Linked DNA regions of Homo sapiens: region 2 is linked to region 1. The links come from fine-mapping of genetic effects on gene expression. A gene starts in region 1. The other region holds a variant in brackets. All regions are shown on one strand. Distances are between the middles of the regions.

Region 1 (15,050 bases):
TTGGCTGCCAGCTTGAGGCCTGTGGCTTTCTCCATGCAGGTACAGACTGCCCCAAACTTGCCACTGGAAAGAGAAGAGGCTGTAAGTGAGGGGACCCCAGAGCCCACCGGGGTCAGTGGCATCCTTTGCTCTGATCCTAACTTGGTCCCAGACCCAGTGGTGCCTCTGGATCCCCTTTGGTGAGATGGGAGCACTCACCCCAGCCAGCCCTGACTCCCTCCTGAAGCTGTGAGCTGTTCTGCCAGGACAATGGCTGAAGCAGGTTCTTTGAACCACACAGACCACGTGCACAGGAAGAGCAGGCGTGTAGGGAGGATGGCCCTGGGATGCGACCCTTAGAGGTTTAGGGCAGGCAGGCCCTGGGCCCTGGGGGAGGGCACCTTCAGGCAGAGGGAGGATCTGCAGAGGTATAAGACTGAGTCAGGGCTTTTTACAAAGCAGGAATCACCATGAGGGGGTCAGTGTGGTGCCTGGAGCTGAGACAGACAGAAAAATGCTGTGTATTTCCTACGGAAGCACTGAATGGCTGACGGTGCGTCTGAGTAAGTGACAGCAACACTGAGTGCACATCAGCATGTGACAGCTGCACACAGTGTGTGTCCCACACAGAGGTGAACATGTCCATGTGGCCATGTCTCAGCGGGGTGTGTGTCTGGGCCTTGCACAGGGGAAATGTGAAGCCACAGGAGCCCGGTGTACTCTCTGTCCATGAGTGCCCAGCTGGGGTCCCAGATCTCACCCTCCGAGCGCCTCCTTGGAGTTCATACTGAATTCACTGCTGACATTCCCGGTCCTCAGCTCCACCATGCGGTGAGGGAAGGGGGCCGGAGGTGGCGGGCAATCATCTGGGGGACAGAGCACAGCCCTCATGGTCAGTGCCAGGGGCTGCTGAGGATTCCCCTTGGCACCACCCCTCCTGCTGGCCTGGGCCCCATCTAGGGAAGTTAAGTTCACCAAGTGATACCTGGGGGACACCTGGCTCCAGGATAGGGGCTATGGGGCCCAGTTTCCAATATCAGTTCTGCCACCAACACAACACTCCTATCAGGGAGGACCAGCTTCTCCTGGCAGAACAAACGGGATGGGAGCTTGGACTTTTTGGACCCTCTGCATTATAAGACACAAGGACTCCATCCCAAGCTATCTGCATTTCCACCAAAAACAATCAAACACAGCAGCTATAAAGCGGAATGCCAGGCAGTGGGGTTGCTATGTCTGAATAATGGGGTAGGTGGTGGGACCTGCCCACCCTCCATCCTAATAACACCGCAATCTGGCCAGACCACCCATGGCGGGGCGGGACCGGGGACCGTGCTGTTTGGTGGGGAGAGGGCGCCACCTAGCGGCAAGTGTGGGGAACCGCTCGCCCTGAAGGCTGGCAGGCCGGCAGGCGGTCATCAGGAATGGAAACCTCTTTATAAATAGCAAGAGGCGGCAGGGAAGCCGGGCTGGTGATAAATCAAACGGCCTTTGGAGGTGGTTCAGATCCTGTCACTCTAGGATGCGATTTCGGGGCGGGGCGGAGGTCTCTGCGGCTGCTAGGGGCGGAGGCAGGGCTCCTGGCTGCCGCCCAGCCGCCAGGTCCTCCCACCCTGTCTGGGTGGCACGGTGCCGCTCACCAGGCAGGCTGGCGGGTCTCCCAGGGCACTTCAGCCTGGAGGCAGGGGGGTGTCAGGACACTCTGGGTTCTCCTGACCCCATCTCACCCCACCCCCAGCCCTGCCGCACCCCTGCCCAGGCCCTTTCCCTATTCACCTGCTGGCCAAGCTCACTCACACTCAGTGCTCTCTGCAGCCCATGAACAAGCCACGGGCTGCTTGTCTAATCATCAATGAAGGCCACTCCACAGTCCTGCCCCATTGCACATGCCCAGCTTCCTTGGTCACTGCTCCCACACACAGGCACCTGTGCTCCTCAGCGCATGAGCCCTCTATAGCTCCCACGACCCCACCCCACTATACAGTTTAGCTACTAAGCCTGGCATTTGAGCCCTTCTACAGATTGACTCCAAATTCCATTGCCCAGGGAGTTTGTGTTGCTCCAATAATCTGCCTGATTTTTCTTTTTTTTAACTTCATTTTAGTCAAAGTAGAAAAAACTCAAAAGTGGGTTCTGGAGTCTGGGTGGCCTGACAGGTTCAAATCCTGTCTTCACTGGATATGTTTGGGCACTTCATTTTCCTTTTTCTGAGCCTTCCTTTCCCCATCTATCAAAAGGGAATACTAAATTTAAAAATAAAAATACATCTTAAAAAATAAGATTGAAGAAAGCCAGGTATGGTTGTACACGCCTGTAGTCCCAGCTACTCGGGAGGCCAAGGTGGGAGGATCACTTGAGGCTGGGAGTTTGAAGCCAGCCTGGGCAACGTAGCAAGACCCTATCTTTTAAAACAAATAAACAAATGAATAAACATACGTTAAAAAAGGAATACTTTCTGGAGTTGTGTGACCCTTAGATGAATGGGCCTGGGTAAGGCTTGGCTCAGGGCAGTTCAGACCTCCGAATAGGTAGACTTGGGACTGACAGCCCCCTTCCCTCCCCCTGGCCCCAGGGCAGCCCCAGCCCCCACCTGCCCCTGGCCTACCCAAAATCTGGAAGCAGTCCTCCTCCCTGGCTGTGAGACAGAGGGCCTGCCCCACCTCGGATTTCTCTGAGGGAACAGCCTGGAACTCAATCCCCCTCGAGGTGTCCCCTTGCATCTTAGCCTGGCCAGCCTGGCCTGGGGTTTTCTCTCCCACTTCCTTCTGGCTCTCTGCCAGGATGTTCTTTCCTTCTTCTGCCTTGGCTGGCCTGGGATCCGTGGGGCTGTGGGTCATGGGCACCCCTTCAAAGGTGAGCTCTGATGCCTCGCTTGGGGGCTTCTTGGCCAGCAGCTTCTCAGAACTAGAAGGTGAGAACACAGAGGTGAAGCCCTCAGCGGCCACAGCCTGTGGCATCAGGCAAGTCTCAATGCAATCTGCAGAGCTAATCCAACCCCACCCCAAATGCATGGTGTAATACAGCCAAATTCACCTGGTACAAAATTAAGGGATGTTCATGGCTGTGGTCATTATCTTGACTACCAACACACTAATACATCATTAATAACTATTAATAGGATTGTTGATATGGTTAATCATCATGTGGATACAACTAGGGAGTTATGTAGCTCTTGATTCATAAAATCTGTTGTGATATAATTGATACATAATTATCAAAGTGATATGGTAAATGTTCTTATTGTGGCTTACAATATATCATTAATGACCTCATTAGCATTCAGGTAAGTATAACTGATGGCATCACACATGTGCTATATTATGGTTATGAAAATATTATCAATGATCCTCCAATCTGGTTATTAGTCATCTTTTCATATCTTACCAATAATTATATTAAGAAGAACAGGAAAATACTGGATGTCCTAGGAAATACACAGCCTTTTGCCTGACACCTTTAGCCTTTCTGCCTGCCATCTCAACCCTGCCCTTGGCTAGACCCAAGCCCATGGAGTAAGGGGAACTTCGGACCCCAGAAGCCTAGAGAAGATATGTTCAACCTAGGCAGTCTTTGAGGGTCTCTCTTACTCCAGTCTTGTATGAATTGTGGCAGGGTTCTGGTTTCTGCAGGGGACAAGGCGGTAGAGGCAATTCACAGGACAGAGGAAACTGAATGTCAGAACTACACTCCCCAGCACTGAATGTGATGATAACCATGCCTAAGACAAGGGAATTAAGCAGGACCCCTAGGGACAGAACCACAGGACCCCTCCCCACTCCCAGGAGGGGATATTCACCTGGAGATGATGGCAGGACAGCTGGGGCTATGCAGAAAGGCAGGTGAGCCCCTCCTGGCTGCTGCTTGGCCCTCTGCTGCCTTCTTGCCCACCCTGGGCTTTCCAGGATCCTGGCTGCCTGAGGCTCCCTGCTCAGCCTTGGGCTTCTTGACGCTGGTCTCAGGTGTCGCAGTCTGCTGGGGCAGGGCTGCCGGGGGCCCAGCACTGCCCTCCGCGGGCCCCCCGCCCCTGTCACCCTCTCCTTTGGGGCCTTGGCTGCTAGTTGAGGGTTGGGCCAGGGTACCATCCCCTTTCTCTGAGGCAGGGGCTTTGGCATCTTTCTTCAGGGTGGGTGGATCCGGAGCTTTCTTTGGGTCTGGGGGGCCAGGGTCTTTCCCTGCAGCCAGGGGTCTTTCACCTGTGGGACCTTTAGGTGCCTTGTCTGCAGAGGAGGTGAGACACCCATCAGGATCCACCCTCCTTTCCTTCCCTCTCACCCAGGCTGGGCAGAGACCAGCTCTGGGCCCAGGTTCCCACCCAGGCAACAACTTGCAAATGCTTGTCCCACTGAGTCTCTGGGGCCACTTGATGGCCCCTAGAGATGAGCTGCCACGACCTTGGAGGGCCTCTGTGGGAGGCTTCCAGCCCTTTGGGTGGGCCTTGGTGGCCCCCATCATCCTTGCCCTGACTGTTTAGGTGCATCCCCAGCAGCCATCCCTGGTGGCTTCACATTTTCCTGGTCTCTCCAGGAAGGGCTTCATACAGGCCCTGGACCCAGCCCAACCCTAGCCAGAGATTCCTCTGATTTCTGGGTCCCCCGTGCACCATGCAAACAAGGCTGGGGCACAGAACTCCCACTGAGGAACCTGCCCAGTCCTGGATTCAAAACCCCCCTTCCCAAGCTCCTCCCTCCATCTCCTGCCCCAGCTTGGCACCTGTTGATGGGTTCTGAATTCCCAGCTCAACTGCTCCATTTTCTGTCGCCATGAGGTAGGGAGGCGTGTGCTGCTGCTTGTCTAACTCAAGTCTTTCTAGCTGCAGAAACAAGAGTGGAGTGTGTCAGGCTGTCCAATTTCCCCTCTCGTCTGGCTGCAGTGAGACAGGAAGCCGAGGCCTGCTAACTGAGGGGAGAGAGGTACCTGGAGCAAAGAGGGGCAACCTGGTTGCCGTCTGTCTCCCAGCGGCTGCTCAGGAGCAGTCCTGGGCAGTTGTAAGGGATTGGGCCGGGTGGGCAGAGGCGGAGGCAGGGGTGTGGGCAGTGGAGGCGGGGACGGAGGAGAGGATCTCTTACACCAGGGGCCATGCAGCTGGGACTGCCGCCACCTGTCACTCTTGGCCCCAGTTCAGAGGACACGGCATTCTTCCCATGGCCCGACTGGGGGGAGAATGATGTTGGAACAAGCGAGAAAAGGGAGGGGTATCTGGGACGCTGGGGGAGCAGCCCTTTCCCCAGGCCTTGCTCAGTATCCCTGACTTGGACAGGATCAGAGGGGGCCTGGAAGAAGGGGAGTACTCAGGCAGGCCTGAAGGGCAAGAGTATGCCCAGGCTGAGCCCTGGTCTGCCCACCTGTGTGCCACATCTCCTGGGGCTCCCCAGAACCTGGCTAGAGCCACAAAGTCCCAGGGATAATCTCCCTGACCCTAGTGCCTAGCTCTGTGCCTCGACATCTGGACCTGCTTGCGTCACCTTTGGGTAAGAAATTGTCTCGGGGGCACTTTCTCAACATGTCCATAGGCCTGGAAGCTTTTTCTTTTGAAACTGTCCTTTTCTTGGGCTCCTGGGGACACGGAGGCTGCCCTGAGTAGCCATGGGAGATGGAGAGTGCTCTGTGCCCCTCCCCCAAGCTCATCCAGTTCTCACCCATGACCCACATGGAAGAAGGGGGCTGGCAGAGAGTCTTTTCAAGGATGCTCCACTACAGGGGTGGCCCGAGGGGCACTCTAGCCTGAGGTGTTCGAGATAGGATGAGGACAGCTATGATCCAAGGAGCCTTCCATCACCCAGAGCCTTTCTCAGAGGGGGCTCTTGAGAACTGGCCAGACCTGGGTGCATTAGAAGTAGCTGTAGAGGCCAGAAGCAGTGGTTCACACCTGTAATCCCAACACTTTGGGAAGCTGAGGCAGGAGGATCACTCGAGGCCAGGAGTTGGAGACTGGCCTGGGCAACATAACAAGACCCCGTCTTTATATTTTAAAAAGTAAGATAAAATGAAGTAGCTGTAGAGTGGTTATCCAGGTTCAGGTCCTGACTGCAGCAAACCAGTCACTTCACTCCATGGCCTCGGCTCCTCTGTCAAATGGGAAGCCATTGGAAAAACGCTTGATGAGAGAAAGGAGGGAGAATGCAGCCCCTCTAAGCAGTGGGGAAATAGGAACCTGTAAAAAAAGATTGAGGAAGCTGTTAATGAACTGACAAAAAGTGACCACCAAAGTGGGGGGAATAAAAAAAGCAAGATGCAAAGTAGCATGTAGAGTGTGCTATCCATTTGTGCAAAAAAAAAAGGGAGAATAATATATGAATAATATATATTTCACTTTATGCACATAAGAATTTATTTGGTAGGATAAGCAAGGAACTGGGCCCCAAGGGTGGGAAGGAGACATCACTGTATATACTTTGACTTTTCTGTTTGAACCATGAACTATGTGAACAGGCTACTATTCAAAATGAGTGGGATGTTTTGTTTTGTGAGCAAATGTCAAGGGTTTTTGGTATAAGCTGGTAAAAACCATAGTTGGAGCTCTTTCCCCAGTCTTGACTACTTTTGCTCTGCCTGGCCCTCCTCTCCAGGCCCGGTCCTCCTCTCCTCCATTTCTCTTCTTTAAGGTCCAGTTAACAGTCTGCCTCTTCCAGGAAGCAAAAGTAACAGCTGATGCCTATACGGTACTGACCACGTGCCTGGCCTCGCTCTGCATGCTCTCATGTTGATCCACCCAAATGGTCTTCAGAAGAACCCAGTGCGGTAGGTACTAGAGAGATGGGGAAACCAAGGCATGGAGAGGTTATGTAATTTACTCAAAGTCACAGCTTGGAAGGGGCTGAACTGAGCTCTGAACCCAGGTCCCCTGCAGAAAGGGAGCTTCCACTTGCTGAGCACCTGTCATTCGTTTTAGCCATCTTGCCTTTAAGCATCATCTTGATGATAACTCTGTGGGGAGCGCTCATCTCATTTTCTGCATGAGGACGAGGAGAGTTAAAGGAATCAGTAGCTTGCCCAAAGTCACTCAGCAAGGAAGGGAGTTGAGCTTGGAATGTCGTTCTTCAAACTCCAAAGCCCTCTTCCCTTCCTAAAATGTCCCAGCCTGTGCCTTGCCCCCTTCTCCCTGCTGAGTAACCCCTTTGTGGATCTTGCAGCATTCAAAAGGTTGAAATGTTTCCTGTCCTAATGCGGATCATTAGGACCTCCTGGCCCTCTATCTGGCCCAGAGCATGTTTTAGTTTAATTTGGAATGTTGGGTCCCCTGCTTCTGGCCTCCCCACAGTGCCCCAGCTGATCCCACCATTGGTTGACACTGTCTGGGAGCCCCCTGAAGGCCAGGGGCTAAACACATCCCCAGCACAGAGTGGACTTGCCCATCAGTGTCTGATGAGTAAATAACTGATTAACCAGAAGGCTCCAGACTGGAGTTTGTTACCTCCCTATGCTGGACCTTGCTGGCATCTCCTTGTTATTATTGTGGTTATCAATACCAGTCATTTATTGAGTGCCCACCAACGGCCAGGCCAGACTATGCCAAAGATCCAGCTCCCTGGATCCTCAGAAGGGACTGTAGGGGCCAATGTTACACCATTTTAAAGGTGTGGAAACTGATGCTCACAGAGGGAAGTGGCTTGTCCCCACAGTCACTCAGCTAGTGAATGGCTTCAAACTACCCACATTCAAATCCAGAGCCACCTCCCAATGAGACCAAAATCCAGCCTGGGACAACTTCAGGGGCATTAGTGCTACTTTTGTTATAATTATTATTCCCAAATAATTACTCTTATTGAACTCTTTCTAAAATGGACCAGGCCCTGGGGTAAGCAGCTTCATGAGTATCCTTCCTTCGAGTCTTACAACTCCCTACCATGCAGTGATTAGGAGATCTGTCAATGAAGCGCTGCGACCAGTAACTGTGAGCTTGGAACAATGTCTTCACCTGTTTCCTCATCCGTAAGGAGAGCATCTGCCTCCCAGGAGGTAGATAAAGCATTACAACAGTGAGTGTGAGCATAGCGAGTGCTGTATAAATGTCAGCTCTTTAATCCCCATTTCACAGATGTGACAGGAAAACTGAGTCACAGGGCAAAGTCATAGAGTTGGGATTGGACCCATCTAACCCAAGGCTCTGCTCATAACTGCTCTGCCCCATTGCCTCCCTCTCACAGCATGGCTGCGAGCATTTAGCCAGCACACATGTAAAGAGTGCCCAATGGCACAGTACCTACAGCACTGTGGGGGCCTGATAATGTCGTGGACACCCCAGGTAGAGGGTTCATCTGTTCCCGCCAGCTCCCCTGCAGTGCCTCCCACTGGGATGAGAGTCTGGCCTGGTTCCGAATCTACGGGACTGCCTGCTCCAGCCAGCTGCTCCCTGGGAGTCCCCAAGCTTCTCAGCACTCCCTTGGAGGCACAGGGGTGGGGCACGGGGAAACTTCCTCCACCCACCTAGGGGCTGCCAGAGCCCCTGCCCACCCTCAAGAAGGGGCTTCCCCGCCCTGCACCAGCTGTGCAGACACCCTCTTTGCCTCTACAGGGGCAGGACAGGAAGTGGGGCAATGCCAAGACCAATTAAACCCGCCAGGGGAATTAAGGTCAGCAGGATGCAATTATGCCTGTTGGATTTAACAAGGCCAGAGGGAAGGTTTCTCCAGCCAGAGTTCACGGCTCCTTAGGCCTCTTGCCCTGTGTAGCTCTGCCTTCCAGGAGCCTAGGCTTCCAGGCTCACCTAGCTCTGGAAGAATGTGTTGGGGGTGAAGGGGTTAACTTCACCCAGGCACTGCTTCCTTGGCTCTGGAGAGGAAATCAGTTCAGCCAAGAGGCTTTAAAAGGACCTGTTCGGAGAAGTCATGCCCAGTCTGACCCTCTCCCTGCCCAGCTGTGATGGAAAATCCAAAGAGTTGAGCAACAACCTTTCTGACTCCAAAGAGAGCAGCCAACTCCCCTCACAGCCTTCCCTCTGCTCCTGTTTGAGAGCCACTCAAGGCTGCATTAGCACGTTGTTTTCTCTCGCCCTCTCCCACCTTGGACCCCTGAGCCCAGGGCCTTGGCAGGACCTCTCAGGCCTCTGGAAAAGCCCTAGGTAAGGTTGCTGTCCTTACAGCAGACCCTGTCCTTCCAGCCAAGCTAGTAAGCAGAGGTCTGTGGGCGTTCTGTGTGCAAATTGGACATAGGTTTCTCCGAAAACGCAATTGACACACTGTTCCATCCCACAGTTATAGAATTTTATTGCTAAGATTAATTACTGGGGGCTCTACTGTGACAAGGACTAAACTGGTCACTTTCAGGACACAGAGATGAAATTGGGGGAGAGCTATAGAATCACTGCATATTACATTTTAGGTGAAAAAAGACTATAAAAATCAACCATGCCTGTAATCCTAGCATGTTAAGAGGCCGAGGCTGGAGGATCACTTGAGCCCAGGAGTTCACGACCAGCCTGCGCAACATGGTGAGACCCCATCTCTGCAAAAAAATTTAAAAATTCGCCAGGCGTGGCAGTGCACACCTGTGGTCCCAAGCTACTCAGGAGGCTGAGGTAGAAGGATTGCTTGACACCAGGAGGTTGAGGCTGCAGTGAGCCATGATTGTGTCACTGCACTATGGCCTGGGTGACAGGGTGGGCCCCTGTCTCAATAAATAAATTAAATAAAAATCAGCCATAGAGCGGGATCCTTTTTGTTCAAAATATTTACAAAGAAGATGGCTGGAGGGATATAAATGGACATATTTACAGGCGTAGAAATAGAGATTATTTTTATTCTTTATTCATCTAGATTTTCCAACTTTTTTGGAAATGACTTGTAACTCTTAATCAGATCAATAAGTAATTCCAAATATATCAACGTGGACACAGATTTCTTCAGAGAGAAAATGGTAAGAGCTATAAAACACCATGAAAGGACTTCTTGGCTCAGGGCCTCAGAGAACTCGCAATTCAGCTACTGCAAGGCTTTCTCAGTAACTAAGCCCCAGAGTTGGTTTAAAATGAAGCCTCCTGGCTGGGCGAAGTGGCTCATGCCTGTAATCTCAGCACTTTCGGAGGACAAGGCAGGCGGATCACTTGAGATCAGGAGTTCAAGCCCAGCCTGGCCAACATGATGAAACACCATCTCTACTAAAAATATAAAAATTAGCCGGGCATGGTGGTGAGCACCTGTAATCCCAGCTACTCGGGAGGCTGAGGCATGAAAATCACTTGAACCCAGGAAGCAGAGGTTGCAGTGAGCCAAGCTTATGCCACTGCACTCCAGCCTGGGCAATAGAGCAAGACTAAGTCTCAAAAATAAAAATAAAATAAAAAATAAAATGGAGCTTCCTTGGAATGAGGCCCCAGAAATGTCTATAAACCAGCATTTCAGGTGATTTTTCATGCACATCCAAGTTCAAGAACCACCAAGTCAGAGAGCCAGCTCTCTAGAAAGCATCCTGAGAGCCTTGGAAGAGGGAACAGATTTGAGGCACTGTCCTGACAGTCACCCTGGTGCAGTCAGTGGAGAGCTTCCAGGATTCATATCCCTATAACCCAGGGCCACACTTCTCAACCCTGATGCACACTGAAAACACCTGGAGAGTTTCTACAACTCTTGAAGTCTGAGCCCCTCCTCAGCTCAGACCAATTAAGAACATTTGGAGTGGGGCCCAGAATGTTGGTATTTTTAAAAATCTCTCCAAAAGATTCTGATGTGTGGCAGGGTGAAGAGCCACTGATCTAAGGCTTTCCTAGGACAGGAACTTCATTTTCTTTTTTGTATGTTTCTTTTTTTTTTTTTTTTTTTGAGCCGGAGTCTTGCTCTTTTACCCAGGCTGGAGTACAGTCGTGCAATCTCTGCTCACTGCAACCTCCACCTCCTGGGTTCAAGTGATTCTTCTGCCTCAGCCTCCTGAGTAGCTGGGATTACAGTTGTACACTACCATGCTCAGCTAATTTTTTGCATTTTTAGTAGAAACAGGGTTTCACCATTTTGGCCAGGCTGCTCTCAAACTCCTGACCTCAAGCAATCCACCCACCTTGGCCTCCCTATAATCCCAAAGTGCTAGGATTATAGGCGTGAGCCACTGCGCCCAGCCAGAAACTTCAATTTCTGTTTCCCTTGAATGCCCTCCAACATAAGGTAGGAAAAATAGTACACACAGCAGGTATTCTTTCTGACGGTGTTGACTGGGTACCCCATCCCAATATCTGAGACCCTTGGAGTCCAGATGCCAGTGCAAAACAGATGCAGACTACATCACATTCAATTTCATATCCCAAGTACCTAGTACAATACGTGGTGCTGTTGTGGTTAGTAGTAATAGCCACTAACGTTCATTGTGTATTTACAATGTGTCAGACAGAGATATTAACTCTTTTAATCTTCAGAGCAACCTTATGAGGTAGATACTATAATCACTCCCATTTCCAAAAGGAAACTGAGGCACAGAGGAGTTTCAGAGGTAGTAAATGGCGGGCTGGAATTTAAATCCAAACTCTCTTGCTCCAGAGCCCTCACATTTAATTACTACTCCGTACCACAAAGCAATGCCCATTGAAAAATAAATTCATAAGTGAGTGAAGAATCAGTTTGGTTGCCCTAGGGCCTGACATTCAGTAGGTGCTCTGTAAATGTGGAAGAATAAATGCACCTACTTGGTAGGACCCTGGAACAATGGGAAACCAAGAGCAGCCCCTCCTTCATTCCTCCTCTCCCATTCCAGCCCAACTTCTGCAGCATAAACAGCAAAGCCAAAAATAGCGATCTAATGACGTCAGACGAACAAGGTCATCTGAAAATTGCCCACAGCCACTGGACACCTCCCTATAGGATCAAGTAGCAGGAGGGTACCCCAGGCTGGTGCAGCTGTTCCAAGAACAGGAAACGTCCCGGGAGCAGACTTGGAAGCACCATCACATAAAGGCAGAAGCAGTAGGGGGAAACCACAGACATACCAAACAGTAGAAGCAAGACCAAGTGTGGAGTATAGACCTAGAAGATAAGAGTAATTCGACTTTATCTGCACTAGAAGTCACTCCCATCACCCGATCCCAGGAAATGGCTCGAGGAGCAGAGAATGCATGTTCTGTCCTCTTACACAGGACAGCTTCCCAGCCTGCCATTGCGCTATTTATAAAACTTCAGGTCCGTTTGCTAAACTGGGCTACCATAAGAACCAGGGGGTGCATGGCAAGCTCTGAGCAGCTGCTGGGGGAAGAAGACCCTGCCTGAGATGGTGAGGGGCCTCCAAATAAAGGATGAGGGGTGGGCTAGGCAAGGCACCTCCTGGCTGCAATCCACTTGGCACGGTGACCACCTTGGCTATCATTCAGGCCTGCTGAGGCTTGTGACTTAACTGACTGGCAGCTGCCACATCCCTGACGGGATCCAGCATGGTCCGAGATGCCCGCTGTGCTGACAGGGTGAAAGCAAGGAGAGGACCTGCCTCCCAGTGTCTGAGAAGCTTAGCTGGAGGTTCCCACAGCAAGGTCAAGAGTTCAGTGAGGGCTCCAGCTCAAATCCAGAAAAAGCCAGGCCCTATCCTCCTGGAGCTGGCTCTGGTCAAGGGATGCAAGTTGCTGCGGTAGAAAGGACACTGGAGGGCAGATGGACGTGGGTCCAAATTCTGACTCTGCCATTTATTAGCAGCATGACTTTGGATGAGTAACTTAAACTCTGAGCCTCGGTTTCCTCATCTGTCATATGACTTGTTGGAAGAACATATGGAAAAGCATTCTTCCCTCCGTCTTCATTCTGGGAATGGAGTCTTGGCTAAGGAGATAAAACATCCACTCAACAAGCTCAGCAGCTCTCCCGTGTCTAACTCAGTCAGACTGTACAAAGGTGACCCCTCAAGGGGCTGTGGAAGGGAGGAAGATGTTCTCACCCTGAGACAGGCTCTTGACTGGCTGGGCACTAAGGTCACAGGAGAGTGGCTGCTGGCTCCTTGGCCCATGGGTACCTGCATTAGGAGACCTGTTGTCTGTCAGGATTTGCAGGTCCCTCTCCTGGCACAGTGGTCCTCACACTTAGGCACGCATCACTGTCCCCTGGAGTGCTTGTTAAAATATACGTTGCTGGGCCCCACCCTCAGCGTGCCTGACTCAGTAGGTCTAGTGTGGGAATAAAGAATTTGCATTTCTAGTCCCTGATGATGCTGTTGCTGCTGGGCCACAGACCACACTCTGAGGACCACTGTCTTAGAGAATAAAAGTCCCACAGGCCAAGATGCTTAGGCCTCTGAGTAGCTCACAAGAGTAGCGTTGTGGTGTATGTGGGGAAACACAGAACACTGAGACCCAGTCATCAGTACAGCAAATGTTCCAAGGAGAGAGAGATGCACAAAAAGTGAAGCTCTGGCCTGGCGCGGTGGCTCACGCCTGTAATCCCAGCACTTTGGGAGCTTGAGACCAACCTGGCCGACATGGTGAAACCCTGTCTCTACTAAAAATACAAAAAAAATTAGCCGGGCCTGGTGGCAGGCACCTGTAATCCCAGCTACCCGGGAAGCTGAGGCAGGAGAATTGCTTGAACCCAAGAGATGGAGGGTGCAGTGAGCCGAGATGACACCACTGCACTCCAGCCTGGGCGACAGAGCGAGACTCTATCTCAAAAAAAAAAAAAAGTGAAGTGGTTTCATGAAGGGGAGGCGCACTGGCAACCCCTCCCAGCTCCTGAGTGACTGTGTGCTCTGTGTTGCTTCCCCCATTCGTTTTCTATTGCTGCAGTAACAAACTACCAAGAGAGAAAAAGCCTCTCTTGCTTGAACAAACTCCCATGAACCTCCTCCCCTGCAGAGATGTCTCCCTGCTTCTTTTGGCCAGCTGTTAACTAGAAGCTGCTGACCCTATCCTGTCAGGTTGTTAGCTGTGGGAAAATAGCAAAGGCCTCTGGCAATCCTTGGTGACACAGCCACTGACAACACTGAATATGTGACTCAAGCACGGCCACTCTGAGTCACACTGGCTAGCTGGGTGGGTAACAGTCACCATTGCTGCCCACAGTGCCTTTGGGGCATGGTAAGGCGGGAGAGAAATTCCCCTCCACTGTGCTAGAGGAAGGGTCCTTTCTAGCAAGATCATTCTAACTTCTATGAGGAGACTGAGACCCAGAGAATATAAACAACATGTTCAAAGTCACAAAGCGAGAGCAGCTCTCCCAGTTCCCAATCTAGGGTTTATTCCATGAAATAATTCTGTATTTCTCTTGAACCCTGTGCCAGTTATCCAAAAATAACCCAGGTCTCCTTGTCCATGAACACGTAAAAACTGAATCGCAACGGAGAGAAACAGAAAAAGAACAAGGTAAAGTCCATTTTATGGTGACATCCTTAAACTGCCTCCAACAATAGAAGGATTACTTCCAAAATAATCTCAATCTTGGGGGGGAAATCATATCTTGGATGGGAAGGACTTCTTTGTGGCAGTCTGCAAGAATTCACTGAACATTCTATGCAGTCTTTAACCAGTTCCAAGGTCAAGAAAAACATCAGAAAATATGTGTGCGTGTCAAGGGGACAGAATTATTCAGGGATTAGTCCCCTGGAGTGATCTGGGCTAGATTTCCGTTTCCAGAACAACCCTTGGAAAGTCCTCAACAAGATAGAACACTGGTCTCCAACATACTTCGTTGAAGTCCACATGGAAACCCAGGGACAGGAGAGCTTGCTCTCTTGCAGGGATTGAACAACTGGCTATAGAAGACATATAAATATAAAAGTAGGGCTGGTTTGGCTTAAAAAACTGCCTAGAAAAAAATCTAAAAATATTTAAGCTGAAAGGAGCCTTATTAATTGTTCCAGCTCAATCTTATTTGACGGATGTGGAAATTGAAGCCCCCAAAAGAGGAATAACTTGTTAAAGGTTACCCATCATTTCTCTAACCGGAGTGAGATTATAATCCCACCCTTCTTCCCAAAAGACACATCACAGCCCCAGGTAGAGTCTTTGTTTTGTTTTGTTTTGCTTTGTTTTGTTTTTCTAGATGGAGTCTTGCTCTGTCGCCCAGGCTGGAGTGCAGTGGCATGATCTTGGCTCACTGCAACCTCCGCCTCCCAGGTTCAAGCGATTCTCCTGCCGCAGCCTCCTGAGTAGCTGGGATTACAGGCGCCTGTCACCACGC
Region 2 (15,050 bases), 66 kb after region 1:
TATTTCAAAGTAATGTAAAAATGTAACCACATTCTTACTTACCATTGGCCAAGCAATACTGTTTCTGGGAATGGGTTCTTAGTAGCATAATCCTTCCATTTAAAAATGAATTGAGGGCCAGGCGCAGTGGCTCACGCCTGTAATCCCAGCACTTTGGGAGGCTGAGGTGGGTGGATCACCTGAGGTCAGGGGTTCAAGACTAGCCTGGCCAACATGGCAAAACACTGTCTCTACTAAAAATACAAAAATTAGTTAGGCATGCTGGTGGGCGCCTGTAATCCCAGCTACTTGGGCGGCTGAGGCAGAACCGCTTGAACAAGAGTGGCGGAGGTTACAGTGAGCTGAGATTGTACCACTGCACTCCAGCCTGGGCAACAGAGCGAGACTACAGCCTCAAAAAAAAAAAAAAAAAAAATGAATTGAGGGAGGGGTGGCAGGAGGGAGGTGAGGGTAATTATAAAAGATCTTGACTGTGATGGTAGACACATAAACCAACACAGGTGATAAAACCACAGAGAACTTAATACACATACAAGTAAAACTGGAGAAATCTGAGTAAAACTGGTAGATTGTATGAATGTCAATATCCTAGCTGTGATATAATCTATCCCTAATGATAGTAGACAAAGTTTTTATGTGGCTGCCATCACTACAGACATATTTGAGCATGGAGTTTTGTTGAACACTGGTTCATCTGAACTTTCCCATAGGTCCCTAAAGCTTAAATCTGCCATTCTGAACTACAAAACAACATATGCTTTGTACTTACAATCCATTCCCCAAATACTGGGCATTTCAATTATTCCCATAATATCATGGATGACAGAATGTCTTGGTGCAGAAAGAAGTTGATATTTTAGTTCTTTTCTTGCAACCCCTTCTATTATTGAAAGGTCTTCAGCACAAAGCAAGCCACTAATCCTTAAAATAGCCAGAGAAAGCAGGCACTTACCAAACCATGAATCTATGTTTTGAGTATCTCCTTCATCATCCAAGGATGAAAAATTGATGAAATCCGAGGGGGCATCATAGGAATAAGAGCTTTTAACTTGTGACATTGTCTCCCACTTAACGCAGAAGAGCAGGTTTTTCCCAGTATTTGTACCACTTTTCTCAGCAGGTCACCTTCTGAGGAAAGAAATGGTTGCACATAAATCTAAGTAAATTCCCATCATTACTTTGGTTTTACTACCACGTTTGTAATTTTGCAAACCACCTAGAATTTACTGAAAATAGCCTTACTTTGTCCAATCAACCTAAACATTAGTTTTTCAGGTAACTTAAAGATACTCCTTGAGGTAGATATGTTTGGAATTAGAAAGAAGTGGGCCAGACACAGTGGCTCACGTCTGTAATCCCAGCATTTTGGGAGGAGGGAGGACCACATGAGACCAGGAGTCCAAGTCCAGCCTACAAAACATAGACAGACCCTGTCTCTAAATAAATTAAAATTATCTCTAAGTATAACAGTTGACCCTGTCTCTAAAAAGATAAAAATTATCTGTAAGTAGTTGACCCTATCTCTAAAAAAATAAAAATTATCTTTAAGTAATCAGCAAATATAAAGAAAAACCAAAAAGAAAAAATTGAAATTAAAAATAAATTTTAGGCCAGGAGCAGTGGCTCACGCCTGTAATCCCAGCACTTCGAGAGGCTGAGGCGGGTGGATCACCTGAGGTCAGGAGTTCAAGATCAGCCCGACCAACATGGCAAAACCTCTTCTGTACTTAAAAAATACAAAAAATTAGCTGGGCATGGTGGCAGGCGCCTGTAATTCTAGCTACTCGGGAGGGTGAGGCAGGAGAATCGCTTGAACCTGGGAGGTGAAAGTTGCAGTGAGTCGAGATCGCGCCATTGCATTCCAGCCTGGGCAAGAAGAGCAAAACTCTGTCTCAAAAAAAATAATAATAAATAAAAATAAAATAAATAAATAAATTTTCTAAATGTTTTTTAAAAGAGGCAAAGTTTGATAAGTATCTACACTGTGCTAGGTGTTTTACATTCACCATGTCATTATTTTCCCTCAATTTACCATTTTCTCATTTCTAGCCTCCTCTAGCCCAATTTATTCTCTCTCTGCCCTGAATAACCCAATTTCTAAAATACACCACTAATTTTTATGCCTACCAACCAAAATCTTATCCATCATTCAAAGTCCAGGTCAAATCTCTATGAACTCTTTCCCAATTTCCACCTATCATACAAAATTGTTGCCTCTCCAAAGCCAATTGTGCTTTGTTTATATCTCCACTGTAACACTTATCATCCAATTTTATATTAACTATGTAAATGTCTCTCCCAGTAGACTCGAAGTTCCTAAAAACAAAGATAGATTTTACTCACTTGTGTATACCTCATCCATCCATCCATCCATCCAACCATCAAGGTGCTTAACACAGTGCATTATACATAGTAAGAGTTCAACACAGTTTTGTCAAATATAAGTTGTCTTTTCTTAGAAATATTCTCAAAAAATACTATTTCTGAGTATAAAGACGACAACTTTGAAATACACGTAAGAGTCACAACATGCAGCATAGGAACAGAAGCAAGGATAAGGGAACAAGTTAAATAGGCCCCTCCCTACTCCTGCGTACGAAGTTTTGCACTCTATCTTGTGGAAACCTGTGAAGGTTTAAAGTCAGCTCCTACTCAAGCCTAATCTAGTTAATAAAATAGCTGAAAGTAATCTGATAAATAGCCTAAAGGCCACACTCAGTGGCCAATAATTTGCCAATGAAACCCAATGAGCCATTTGTCTTTTTTTTTTTTTTGAGACGGAGTCTCACTCTGTCCCCCAGGCTGGAGTGCAGTGGCATGATCCCAGCTCACCACAACCTCTGCCTTCCGGGTTCAAGCAATTCTCCTGCCTCAGTCTCTAGTAGCTGGAATTACAGGCGCCCACAGCCACACCTTGCTAATTTTTTGTTTTCAGTAGAGACGGGATTTCACCATGTTGGCCAGGCTGGTCTCAAACTCCTGACCTCAAGTGATCCACCCACCTCGGCCTCCCAAGTGTGAGCCACCGCGCCCGGCCAGCCATTTGTTTTTATCCAGGGAACGACATGTACTTAAAAGTATCTGTATCTTAGAAGGGAGGTAGATGCCAGTAATCACTTGAATAAATGTTTATTTAAATTAATACCTTTCTAGTGTGGCGCAGTGGCTCATGCCTGTAATCCCAGCACTTTGAGAGGCCAGGGCGGATGGATCACCTGAGGTCAGGAGTTTGAGACCAGCCTGGCCAACATGGTGAAACCCCATCTCTACTAAAAATACAAAAAAGCGGCCGGGCACGGTGGCTCACGCCTGTAATCCCAGCACTTTGGGAGGCCAAGGCGGGTGGATCACGAGGTCAGGAGATCAAAACCATCATGGCTAAAATGGTGAAACCCTGTCTCTACTAAAAATACAAAAAATTAGCCAGGCGCAGTGGTGGGCACCTGTAATCCCAGCTACTCAGGAGGCTGAGGCATAAGAATCCCTTGAACGCAGGCAGCGGAGGTTGCAGTGAGCCAAGATCACGCCACTCTACTCCAGCCTGGGTGACAAGAGCGAGACTCCGGCTCAAAAATAAATAAATAAATAAACCTATAATGCTACACTATTCCAGATGTCTTCTCCCTCATATATATACAAACTATTATTTTTTTAAATGAATCATTGACAGTTTGAATCTGCTTCACATATTATGAATATTCTTGTATGTCAATAAATATAGACATATCAATTAATGGCTGTATCTGTTCCATAATTACTTATCCTTGATTTTCAGCCTTTTTCCAATATTTTCACTTTAAAGATACTGCTAAAGCATCATCCTTGTAGCTAAATTTCTGTACACATCCATAATTCTTCCCTTAAGATAAATCTTAAGAGGTGGAACTGCTGGGTCAAAAGCTCTTGACACATACTGTGAAAATGTCCCTCAGAAGAAAAAAACACCCACTTACATTACCAGGAGTGTGCCAGTTCCCCAAACTCTCCCCAACTCTGGGCACTGCAGCACTCATTTTCTCTAAACTATACCACATAAGCTATCCACTGAGATGAATCATGAGATTAGTTACTCCCAACCTACATAGCCGTTCAGTGGTTTGGCCAGCATTTCACAGCTTCTCTCAGTGGACTAGGGCAATTCAAAATGGACTAGGGGCTGAGAGTGGTGGCTCATGCCTGTAATCCCAGCACTTTGGGAGGACGCGGCGGGAGGATCACTTGAGGTCAGGAATTCGAGAACAGCCTGGCCAACATGGTGAAACTCCATCTCTACTGAAAATACAAAAATTAGCCTGGGGTGGTGGCTGCACCTGTAGTTCCAGCTACTCGGTGAGAATCACTTCAACCCGGGAGGCTGCAGTGAGCCAAGACCGCACCACTGCACTCCAGCCTGGGAGACAGAGCGAGACTCTGTCTCAAAAAATAAAATAAATAAAAATAATGTACTTCTGGTCCTTATAGTGTCTCAGAAACATCTGTTATTGTTGTTGTTTTTGTTTTGTTTTGTTTGAGATGGTGTCTTGCTCTGTCGCCCAGGCTGGAGTGCAGTGGCATGATCTTGGTTCACTGCAACCTCCACCTCCTGGGTTCAAGCGATTCTCTTCCCTCAGCCTCCCAAGTAGCTGGGGTTACAAGCGTGCGCCACCACGCCTGGCTAATTTTTCTATTTTTAGTAGAGATGGGGTTTCACCATGTTGGCCAGGCTGGTCTTGAACTCCTGACCTCAGGTGATCTGCCTGCCTCGGCCACCCAAAGTGCTGGGATTACAGGCATGAGCAACCGCACCCGGCCAGAAACATCTGTTATAACAAATATTTCATTTATACAGTGACATCAATCTAGACCCCAGAGAACATCATCTTCCCATGGTCTCTCCTATGCTCACTGCAGCCAGAATTCCACAAGTATCTTTATAACAATGCTCTAATTGAGGTACTTAGTGTAGAAACATGATATTTTAGAATTGGGAGGAAACTTTGATTAACACCTAACCTTTGCAGTCTATAAGATATTAACTTAAAGCAAAAAGGGGTTCTCCAAGATCACACAACAAAAATCCTAAGGATCATGGTAAAAACAGTTACCAGAGGTGTTCATTACATGCCAGGTGCCATGATATACTAAATATGTATTCTTTCTGATATGCAAAACAATCCTGTAAAGCAGCAATTATTCCCAACCTAGAAGCTGAAGATCAGAAAGATTAAATGACTTGCCCAGTATCACACAGTTACGTAAAAACAGAGCCAGATCTGGACCTGAGGCTCGTGACTTCAGCACAATGTTCTTTCTACATCCTTCTGCCCTCTTACCTTGTGAATTAAAGAAGGGTGTTCATGAAGTTAAGCTATTTGCATAGAAAAGAATACTGTATTTATTTCCAAGTAAATCCATTCTCCATAGTCTTCTGTCTGGAATAGGGGTTCTTTGGTATCCCCAGTCTAAATTTTCCTCTCTCCTCCATTTCTACTTTCATTATTAAGCTTAACTCAATAAGCTTTTTGTCAGTGGTTCACAATAGTGTGTACTTGCTAGGGGCCATAAGCTGTGTGCCCTTGAATGTTTCTCAGTAACATTCAAGGATGACACTCTATATCTTCACACAAAAAGTAGATCTAAGCGGCCAGGCTCAGTGGCTCGCACCTGTAACCTCAGCACTTTGGGAGGCCGAGACAGGTGGATCACAGGGTGAGGAGATTGAGACCATCCTGGCTAACATGGTGAAACCCCGTCTCTACTAAAAATACAAAAAGAATTAGCCAGGCATGGTGGCGGTCACCTATAGTCCTAGCTACTCAGGAGGCTAAGGCAGGAGAATGGTGTGAACCCGGGAGGCAGAGCTTGCAGTGAGCCGAGATCACGCCACCGCATCCAGCCTGGGCAACAGTGCGAGACTCCGTCTCAAAAAAAAAGAAAAAAAAGTAGATGTAGTCCTGAACACAAAGGAACTTAACATCTACATAGACGCTAAGGTCCTATCATACACAATAAATAAGACAGTTTGTTTAAATTATACAGTATGAACTCTAAGTATAGAGAATTAGAAATTAACATGGCTGAAGTCAAGGTACGATTAAATATTTTTCATTGACCATGACCAAAACAGTAGCAAGTACATTAAAATGGAAGTTACCTCCTGATAGCCACTTTCCAAGCTTGGGGTAGCCATGGGACAGTTCTGGCCAATGAGAACTAAGTAAGAATCTGCTGAGGGATTCCTAGGAAAAAATTTTCTTTCCTGAAAACAGCTATAGCCCTTATTCCTGCCCTTTCCCTTTATCCTTCTTCTTGCCTTGAAGGCAAGCTGGAGCTATGGCAGTCATCTGGTATACATGAGTAGATGGCCAAGAGAACAATAAACATAGGGCTTAACATCAATGAGCTAATGACTATTAAAGATCAAATATCAGCTACTATATACCTCTAGACTTCTGGTGTTTTTTACAATTTTCCATGACCTGCTAAAAAGACTTCTTATACTAAAAAAAAATAGGCCAGGCACGGTAGCTCACACCTGTAATCCCAACACTTTGGAAGGCCAAGGCAGGCGGATCACCTGAGGTCAGGAGTTCGAGACCAGCCTCACCAACATGGTGAAACCCTGTCTCTAATAAAAATATAAAAATTAGCCAGGTGTGGTGGCAGGTGCCTGTAATCCCAGCTACTCGGGAGGCTGAGGCAGGAGAATCACTTGAACCCAGGAGGCGAAGGTTGCAGTGAGCTGAGATTGCGCCATTGCACTCCAGCCTGGGTGACAAGAGTGAGACTTCATCTCAGAAAATAATAATAATTATTGTATAAACCATTATAGCCACATTTTCTGTCACCTGTAGTCAAAAGCAATTCCAACTAACAGAAGTCCAGAATGCCCTCTCTGGCATTTACCACATGTATATGACAATAGGCAAGTCACTAATTCTCTGCCTACCTTCTTACCATAATCAAATAAGAAGCTACTTCAAGTGCTATGAAATACACTATTGTAAGGTATTATCACTGCTGATACCTTTCCTCTCCTTGACCACATTTCTATTCAAAGGATTTTTAGTGAAAGATTCCATGGTACTGACAGTGGTTAAAAACCCCTTGCTGCAAGGAGGAAATTTTCCTTTTCTTGTGAACAAATATGCTAGAAGACATGGGAAAATCTTGGATTCCCATGATCTTAATGCCTAACTCAGGTCACTGGGAA[G/C]GCTTCCCAGGCATGAATGTAATGAAGACGACTAAAGCTGGGGGAAGGAAGAGGCAGGAATGTAACATGCAGCAACCCCACTTAGCCTCAAAACCATGATTCCACCAAAGCATGATGCTGAAAACTACCTGGAAAGTGTTCAAATTTAACCCTTCACATCCTTTTTTTCTTTCTTTTTCATCTCTGTTTTTTAAAGAATCTAGCCTGTTGCTCAGGCTAGACTCGAACTCCTGGGCCCAAAGGATCCTCCCTCCTCAACCCCTCCTAAGTAGCTGGGCATGGTGGTGTGTGCCTGTAGTCCCAGCTAATCAGGAGGCTGAGGTGGGAGGATCATTTGAGTCCAGGAGTTTGAGGCCACAGTGACCCACGATTGCACCACTGCACTCTAACGTGGGCAACAGAGTGAGACTCTGTCTCTTAAAAGACAACAACAACAACAACAACAAAATAGTTAAGCAGTATTTATTTCCCTAGATCTATGTTTGCAGCCCAAAAGAAACTGAGCTTTCTCAAATTTTTATTAAATATTCATGACAAGCAATGATTGTCTAATCTCTTGATTTAAGGAAATAATCCTTCCCATTTACGTGGCCTATAAATTGACTATTAACTTACCCAAATGTTACATATTCTCTTTCTAATATTTCTATATAGAACTACCAACCTGGCCAACATGGTGAAACCCCATCTTTCTACTAAAAATACAAAAATTAGCTGAGTTTGGTGGCACATGCCTGTAATCCCAGCTACTCGGGAGGCTGAGGCAGGAGAATCGCTTGAATGCAGGAGGCAGAGGTTGCAGTGAGCCGAGATCATGCCACTGCACTCCAGTGTGAGACTCCGTCTCATAAATAAATAAATAAATAAATAAATAAATAAATAAATAAATAGCCGGGCACGGTGGCTCACACCTGTAATCCCAGCACTTTGGGAGGCCAAGGCGGGCGGATCGCCTGAGGTCAGGAGTTCGAGACCAGCCTCAAAATGGAGAAACCCTGTCTCTACTAAAAATATAAAATTAGCCAGGTGTGGTGGTGCATGCCTGTAATCCCAGCTACTTGGGAGACTGAGGCAGGAGAATTGCTTGAACCTGGGGGGTGGAGGTTGCAGTGAGCCAAGATCGCACCATCGCACTCCAGCCGGGGCAACAAGAGCGAAACTCCGTCTCAAAAAAAAAAAAGAAATCGAGACCATCCTGGCCAACATGGTGAAACCCTGTCTCTACTAAAAACACAAAATTAGCTGGGCATCGTGGCATGCGCCTGTAGTCCCAGCTACTCGGGAGGCAGAGGCAGGAGAATAGCTTGAACCCGGGAGGAGGAGGTTCCAGTGAGCCAAGATCGTGCCACTGCACTCCAGCCTGGCAACAGAGTAAGACTCCATCTCAAAAATATAATAATAATTAATTTAAAAAATTAAAAATAAACAAATAATAAGATTTCTATATAGAACTAAAAATGATTCCTGGGGCATTGACTTAATAAAAGGGTATATAAATTTGAAAAAGTTAAAAATAAAAACAGCTATTAACTTTTTTCTTTTTTTTTGAGACAGAGTTTCACTCTTGTCGCCCAGGCTGGAATGCAGTGGCACAATCTTGGCTCACTGCAACCTCTGGCTCACGGGTTCATGTGATTCTCCTGCCTCAGCCTCCTGAGTAGCTGGGATTACAGGCACCTGCCACCATGCCCAACTAATTTTTTGTATTTTTAGTAGACGGGGTTTCACCATGTTGGCCAGGCTGGTCTTGAACTCCTGACCTCAAGTGATCCACCCGCCTCAGCCTCCCAAACTGCTGGGATTACTAGCGTAAGCCACCGTGCCCGGCCAACAGCTATTACTTAATGAGCACTTATGACATGCCAGACACTGTTGACAGTGTCTTACATGTATTAACTCACTAAATCCTCACAATAATCCTATAAAGTAGGTACTGTTATTATCTTCATTCTATACTGAGGGACTTGAGGCACAGAGAGATTTACTACTTATTCACAGTCATGCAGCTAAGAAGCAGTAAAGCCAGGATTCCAAATGGAATAGACACCGAAGGTGGTGTTCTTATCCACTGCCTATTTATTTAAAAATAGACATTTAAGCTGGGCGCGGTGGCTCACGCCTGTAATCCCAGCACTTTGGGAGGCCGAGGCGGGTGGATCATGAGGTCAAGAGATTGAGACCATCCTGGCTAACACAGTGAAACCCCGTCTCTACTAAAAATACAAAAAAATTAGCCAGGCGTGGTGGTGGATGCCTGTAGTCCCAGCTACTCGGGAGGCTGAGGCAGGAGAATGGCGTGAACCCAGGAGGCGGAGGTTGCAGTGAGCCGAGATCGCGCCACTGCACTCCAGCCTGGGCAACAAAGCAAGACTCTGTCTCAAAAAAAAAAAAAAAAATTCACATTTAAATAGATAAATAACAAATGTCATGGAGCAAGAGATAATAACTTCCAAATACTGTCTACTGTAGGCCAGGCACCTTACCAGACACTTCACATAAATCATCTCGTTTAAACTGCATTAACAATATAGACAATAGATAGATGTCTTTATAAATAAATGCTACCATCACCATTTTATAAACAAGGAAACAAGCTCAGAGAAGTTACACTATTCCAAGATCACCAAACTAATACATAGCAGTGTTGAGTTTTAAAAGAACAAGTCTGCAGGATTCCAAAATCTGGGGTCTCTCTAATGCACAAGTTTTCCTATAAACATTGCTTCAAAAAGGAGGTAGGTAATCAAATCATAAGATCCTGTTCAACAAAGACAAATCCTGCCCTTTATGAAAACTAAGCATCCCTGATATGCTCATAAAGAAAACTTTAGCAAATTACAAATCCTGTTATAAATATATTTGGAAAGCTCTGATCTGAATCTTCCCATAAATTTTTTAAAAAATCCATTGATTCCTCTTTTTTTAAGTATACTTTTCCATATGAAGTTTTTCCTCTATATAAGATGGTGGTTAGTGAAAACCTCAGTGATATTCTAGAGTAAAGAGACTATGAAGAGGGTTCAAGCAGCAGAAGAAAGGCTGTCCTCTGAGGTCTAAGACTACATTTGATTAGTGGGGAACAAACGGCGAGGGGTGCAAACCTAAGTACACTTAATCTTTAGGTGAAATTTTAAAAACAAAATATTATTTTCCTAACATGACCTGTTCTTTAAAAAAGCTTCTTTTAAGCTATATTTTGGTCTAGAATGGCCAACTCAGGAGACCATCCCCTCTCCCTGGAAAAAGAGAATAAATAAATACATATCCATTGAGAAGTCTGACTCTCTTCAATTAAGGCTGATAGGACAAGTACATCAAGAAAACGAAAAGCTAACTACTGGGTAATTTCGGTTTCACGACACTACCTCCCCCAGAAATAATAAATATGAGGATGTGAAATCTTCCAAAATTAAAGTCCACAGGGCCTAGTGGGAAATGGAACAGGCCAGAGCCAAAGGCAGCTGTTTAAATGAGAGAGCCCCAGGCATGGTGGGAACTGGATGCCTTCCTGCGTCCCTTAATCAAGATTGAATTTCTGTCAACAGGTCTCACCAAAAAAAAAAAAAAAAAAAAGGCACATGCGTCAACCACATTCCCCCAAACAAATCAAGTTGCCAAGCAAGAGAATCAGCTTCACATTTCAAAATTATCTGAATCTACCACAGCTTCAGATTCTTGCAAAACTAGAAATATTCTGCATGGAAAAATAGCTATTAATGACCAATATTCCTACAAAGACCCAAGGAAAAAGCCTATCCTGTATGCTATGAACCAATTAGGTTCCTCTAAAAACTGCCTATTCAATGCCATCCATCGTGTCTTATAGCCCATTTTTGTTTCCAAAAAGCGAAGACTAAAACGATAGATAGATAGATAGATAGACAGACAGACAGACAGACAGACAGAGATAGAGATATAAAATCTCGGCCGGGCACAGTGACTTATGCCTGTAATCCCAGTACTTTGGGAGGCCAAGGCAGGCGGATCACGAAGTCAGGAGTTCGAGATCAGCCAGGCCAACATGGTGAAACCCGTCTCTACTAAAAATACAAAAATTAGCGGGCGTGGTGGGTACGTGCCTTTAATCCCAGCTACTCGGGAGGCTGAGGCAGGAAAATAGCTTGAACCCAGGAGGTGGAGGCTGCAGTGAGCCGAGATTGCACCGCTGCACTCCAGCCTGGGACAGAGCGAGACTCCTTCTCAAACAACAACAACAAAAAAAAATCTCTTCCCTCCAAGAACGCACAATTGAATGGGGGAATGCAAACAATTACAATATAGGGCTATCCTTGCTGCAAGAGGGCATTAACAGAGAGCGCTCTGGAAGTGCAGAGAAGGAGAACAGCATAAAAGAGGATCAGAGATGGTTTCCTGATGTAAAAAATACTTAAAAGATACAGACAGACCTGCGGAGTTCTACAAGCTAAGAATGAACGTTGACTTTTTCTAGGGTAAGAGATAAATGGAAGGGGAAGACAAATACAAATTAGGAAGATTGCAGACAAAGCAATGTAACCTGTTCCCACATTCATCTGAAATTAACCTCCCATTGCCTCCCATCTTTCTTCACTCTCAAACCAAAAATAACTAGTCTTGACAAGCTCTATAAATCAAAAGGTGCAGGTTCAGACCGGGTTGGGGAAAGCTGCAAGAGGGTGCATTCTAAGCAGGGTGAAATAGGGGACTACCAGCTCCTGAGCAAAACAAAGACTTTGGTGTGACAGATGCTCTCAAACACCTTGCTATCCAGTCAGTGAGATATGACTTGCCTATTTCTATTAAAGAGAAAGTCATGAGTTAAACTGGTAATATAATAGAATAAACAGAGTAAGACAAGACTTCATTAGAAGTATAGTTAGTTAAGATGGTCCCATCCCAGGCAGTGCCATTTCTCCAGGGACATCCTCTCCTACTTTCACAAGGGATAAGAGATCCTGTTACATTACCACAAGTAAAATAGAGTGGAGTTACTTTCATCTTACCCAGAGAGAAAACACCTACATTTTTTTCTTGTATATAAGGGATTAGCAGCAGTCAGTAAATGGCAACATAATCCAGCATGCAATTTTAACTGTTAATCAAAGTCACAAACTAAGTCTGAAGGAAGTTTAATGGACTTTGTGTTTCCACATTTATGTTTGCTAACTTCTATGTTGAAATTGGATCTGTTTACAGAAACAGATCTATGAAGCTTCCAAAATTGGGTCAATTTAAAATCCAATGACAATCCCTCACTGTCCAACACTCAGAAGTCAGCACAGGACACATGGACACTTGTTCTAATTCATCACTGTCCAGAAACTTCAAGCAAATATATTTCCTATCATTTCTCTCCCAAACTTGTATGTTTCATATTGCCCTTTTTTAAGGATTACAAACTCAGTTTTGCTATAATTTATCCATAGAACTCAACAAACCATAATCCACCTATGACTAATAGGACCTAGATGGAAATCAATGATGCTGTTTACTACTAGGACAGATAATGACAGAGAGCTTTGTAAAATACTAAAAGGAAATCTTAGTAGAAACCCAAAGTAATCTGATATTCCAATAGTATGAAGCTGAAAAAGTTTGTAATGGTTGACAGTGTGGCTGCAGATTACAATCCTAGTCAAATAGCAGTCATTTCATTTTATAGAGATTTATTCCCTTCAAAAGGTATCTGGTTTGGGGAATAACACACAAACACTCAAACCCAAGAACCTAATAAAAGTGTTTATTAGATGGCTCATGCCTGTAATCCCAGCACTCTGGGAGGCCAAGGCAGGTGGATCACCTGAGGTCAGGAGTTCAAGACCAGCCTGGCCAATATGGCAAAACCCCATCTCTAATAAAAATACAAAAATTAGCCAGGTGTGGTGGCGTGCCTGTAATCCTAGCTACTCGGGAGGCTGAGGCAGGAGAATCACTTGAACCAGGGAGGCAGAGGTTGCAGTAAGCTGAGATTGTGCCACTGTATTCCAGCCTGGTTGACAGAGTGAGACTCTGTCTCCAAAAAAAAAAAAAAAAAAGTGTTTACCTATGGATGGTGAGAGTGAAGAAGTAACAAGGCTGGAGGAAGATTTTAAACCATGAAGCTTTTTATATTCTTTTGATTTTTGCACCATGCAAATATATTACCTATTTTAAGTTATACATTTATGCCTATGTGAATATATACTGTTTTAGGTAAATCAGCATAATCTTCCTACAAGGCAATTTGGTGTTACATGTCAAAAGTTTTTAAAAATATGTTTTGTTTGTTTGTTTTTTGAGATGGAGTCTCGCTGTTGCCTAGGCTGCAGTAGTGCAATGGCGCGATCTCGGCTCACTGCAACCTCCACCTCCCAGGTTCAAGTGATTCTTCCACCTCAGCCTCCCGAGTAAGTGGGATTACAGGCACCCGTCATCATGCCTGGCTAATTTGTGTATTTTTAGTAGAGACAGGGTTTCACCATGTTAGCCAGGCTGGTCTTGAACTCCTGACCTCAGGTGATCTGCCCGCCTCAGCCTCCTCAGAGTGCTGGGATTACAGGCGTGAGCCACCGCGCCCGGCCAAAAATACGCATTCTTTTAGACCAGCAATTTCACTGGTAAAAGTAATATAAAGAACCAAATAATGGAATACCATATAGCCATTAAAATTATGTTGTAGAAAAATTTGGCCAGGTACAGTGGCATGCACCTGTAGTTTCAGCAACTCGAGAGGCTAAGGCAGGAAGATCACTTGAGCCCAGGAGATGGAGGCTGCAGTGAGCTGTGATCACGCCACTGAAGTGCACACTCCAGCCTGGGTGACAGAGCAAGACCCTGTCTCAAAAAAAACAAAAAAGAAAAGAGAAGAAAATTTATTAATGACACGGGAAAATATTCATAGCCTGATTATTAAGTTAAAAAAATTAGAGGCCGGGCGTGGTGGCTCAAGCCTCAATCCCAGCACTTTGGGAGGCCGAGGTGGGCAGATCATGAGGTCAGGAGTTTGAGACCAGCCTGGCCAATATGGTGAAACCGTCTCTACTAAAAACACAAAAATAGCCGGGTGTGGTTGCGGGTGCCTGTAATCCCAGCTACTCGGGAGGCTGAGGCAGGAGAATTGCTTGAACCTGGGAGGCGGAGGTTGCATTGAGCCAGAGATCGCGCCATTGCACTCCAACCCGGGCGACAGAGTGAGACTCCGACTCAAAAAAAAAAAAAAAAAAAAGTTAAAAAAATTAACAAAAGTTTTTAGTGTATGATTTTTTTAAAAATGAAATACAGTTGGCTGTCCGTATCTATGAGTTCCATATCTGTGGATTCAATCAACTGCAGATCAAAAATATTTGGGGGAAAAAAAACTGCAAGGCCAGGCACGGTGGCTCACGCCTGTAATCCTAGCACTTTGGGAGGCAGAGGCGGGCAGATCACCTGAAGTCAGGAGTTCGAGACCAGCCTGACCAACATGGAGAAACCCCATCTCTGTTAAAAATACAAAATTAGCCAGGTGTGGCATGCCTGTAGTCCCAGCTACTCGGGAGGCTGAGACAGGAGAATCGCCTGAACCTGGGAGGCGGAGGTTACGGTAAGCTGAGATTGCACCATTGCACTCCAGCCTGGGCAACAAGAGCGAAACTCTGCCTCAAAAAAAAAAAAAAAAACTGCATCTGTACTGCATATGTACAGACTTTTTTTGAGACAGGGTCTCTTTCTGCCACCCAGGTTGGAGTGCAGTGGTGCCCTCAGCTCACCGTAACCTCAAACTCCTTGGCTTAAGTGACCCTTCACCTTGGCCCCCCAAGTAGCTGGGACTACAAGTAGGTGCCACCACGCCCGGTTAAATTTTTTTATGTTTTATTTTTTTTGTAGAGACACGGTGCCACTATGTTGCCCAGGCTGGTCG

Which allele goes with the higher level. Alleles are on the strand shown, and positions count from the first base shown. SD is a standard deviation of normalised expression in the study named.
For the expression in gastroesophageal junction of the gene that starts at base 4,966 in region 1, C is the high allele of the variant in region 2 and G is the other (moderate effect, 0.61 SD a copy in GTEx).

The links. PIP is the estimated chance that this variant, and not a neighbour inherited with it, causes the effect.
Region 2: its variant is fine-mapped to the expression of MYLK2 in gastroesophageal junction (GTEx, PIP above 0.99). The same link has a PIP of 0.9 or more in esophagus muscle, left ventricle, sigmoid colon and transverse colon.

What each region holds. Positions count from the first base shown.
Region 1 is chr20:31,809,272-31,824,321 of GRCh38, reverse strand. MYLK2 (myosin light chain kinase 2) reads right to left here and starts at 4,966. Exons shown (of 13, transcript NM_033118.4): 1 at 4,894-4,966; 2 at 4,690-4,789; 3 at 3,776-4,196; 4 at 2,585-2,883; 5 at 740-845; 6 at 1-63. The coding sequence starts at 4,741. RefSeq lists enhancers at 30-556, 557-1,084, 1,552-1,611, 3,941-4,482, 7,836-8,638 and a silencer at 1,202-1,251.
Region 2 is chr20:31,743,485-31,758,534 of GRCh38, reverse strand. It overlaps TPX2 (TPX2 microtubule nucleation factor), which reads right to left. Exons shown (of 18, transcript NM_012112.5): 3 at 953-1,128. The coding sequence starts at 1,058. Among named protein-coding and RNA genes, the nearest start is that of TPX2, 12 kb to the right of the region's middle. The variant G/C (reference allele first, on the strand shown) is at 7,193.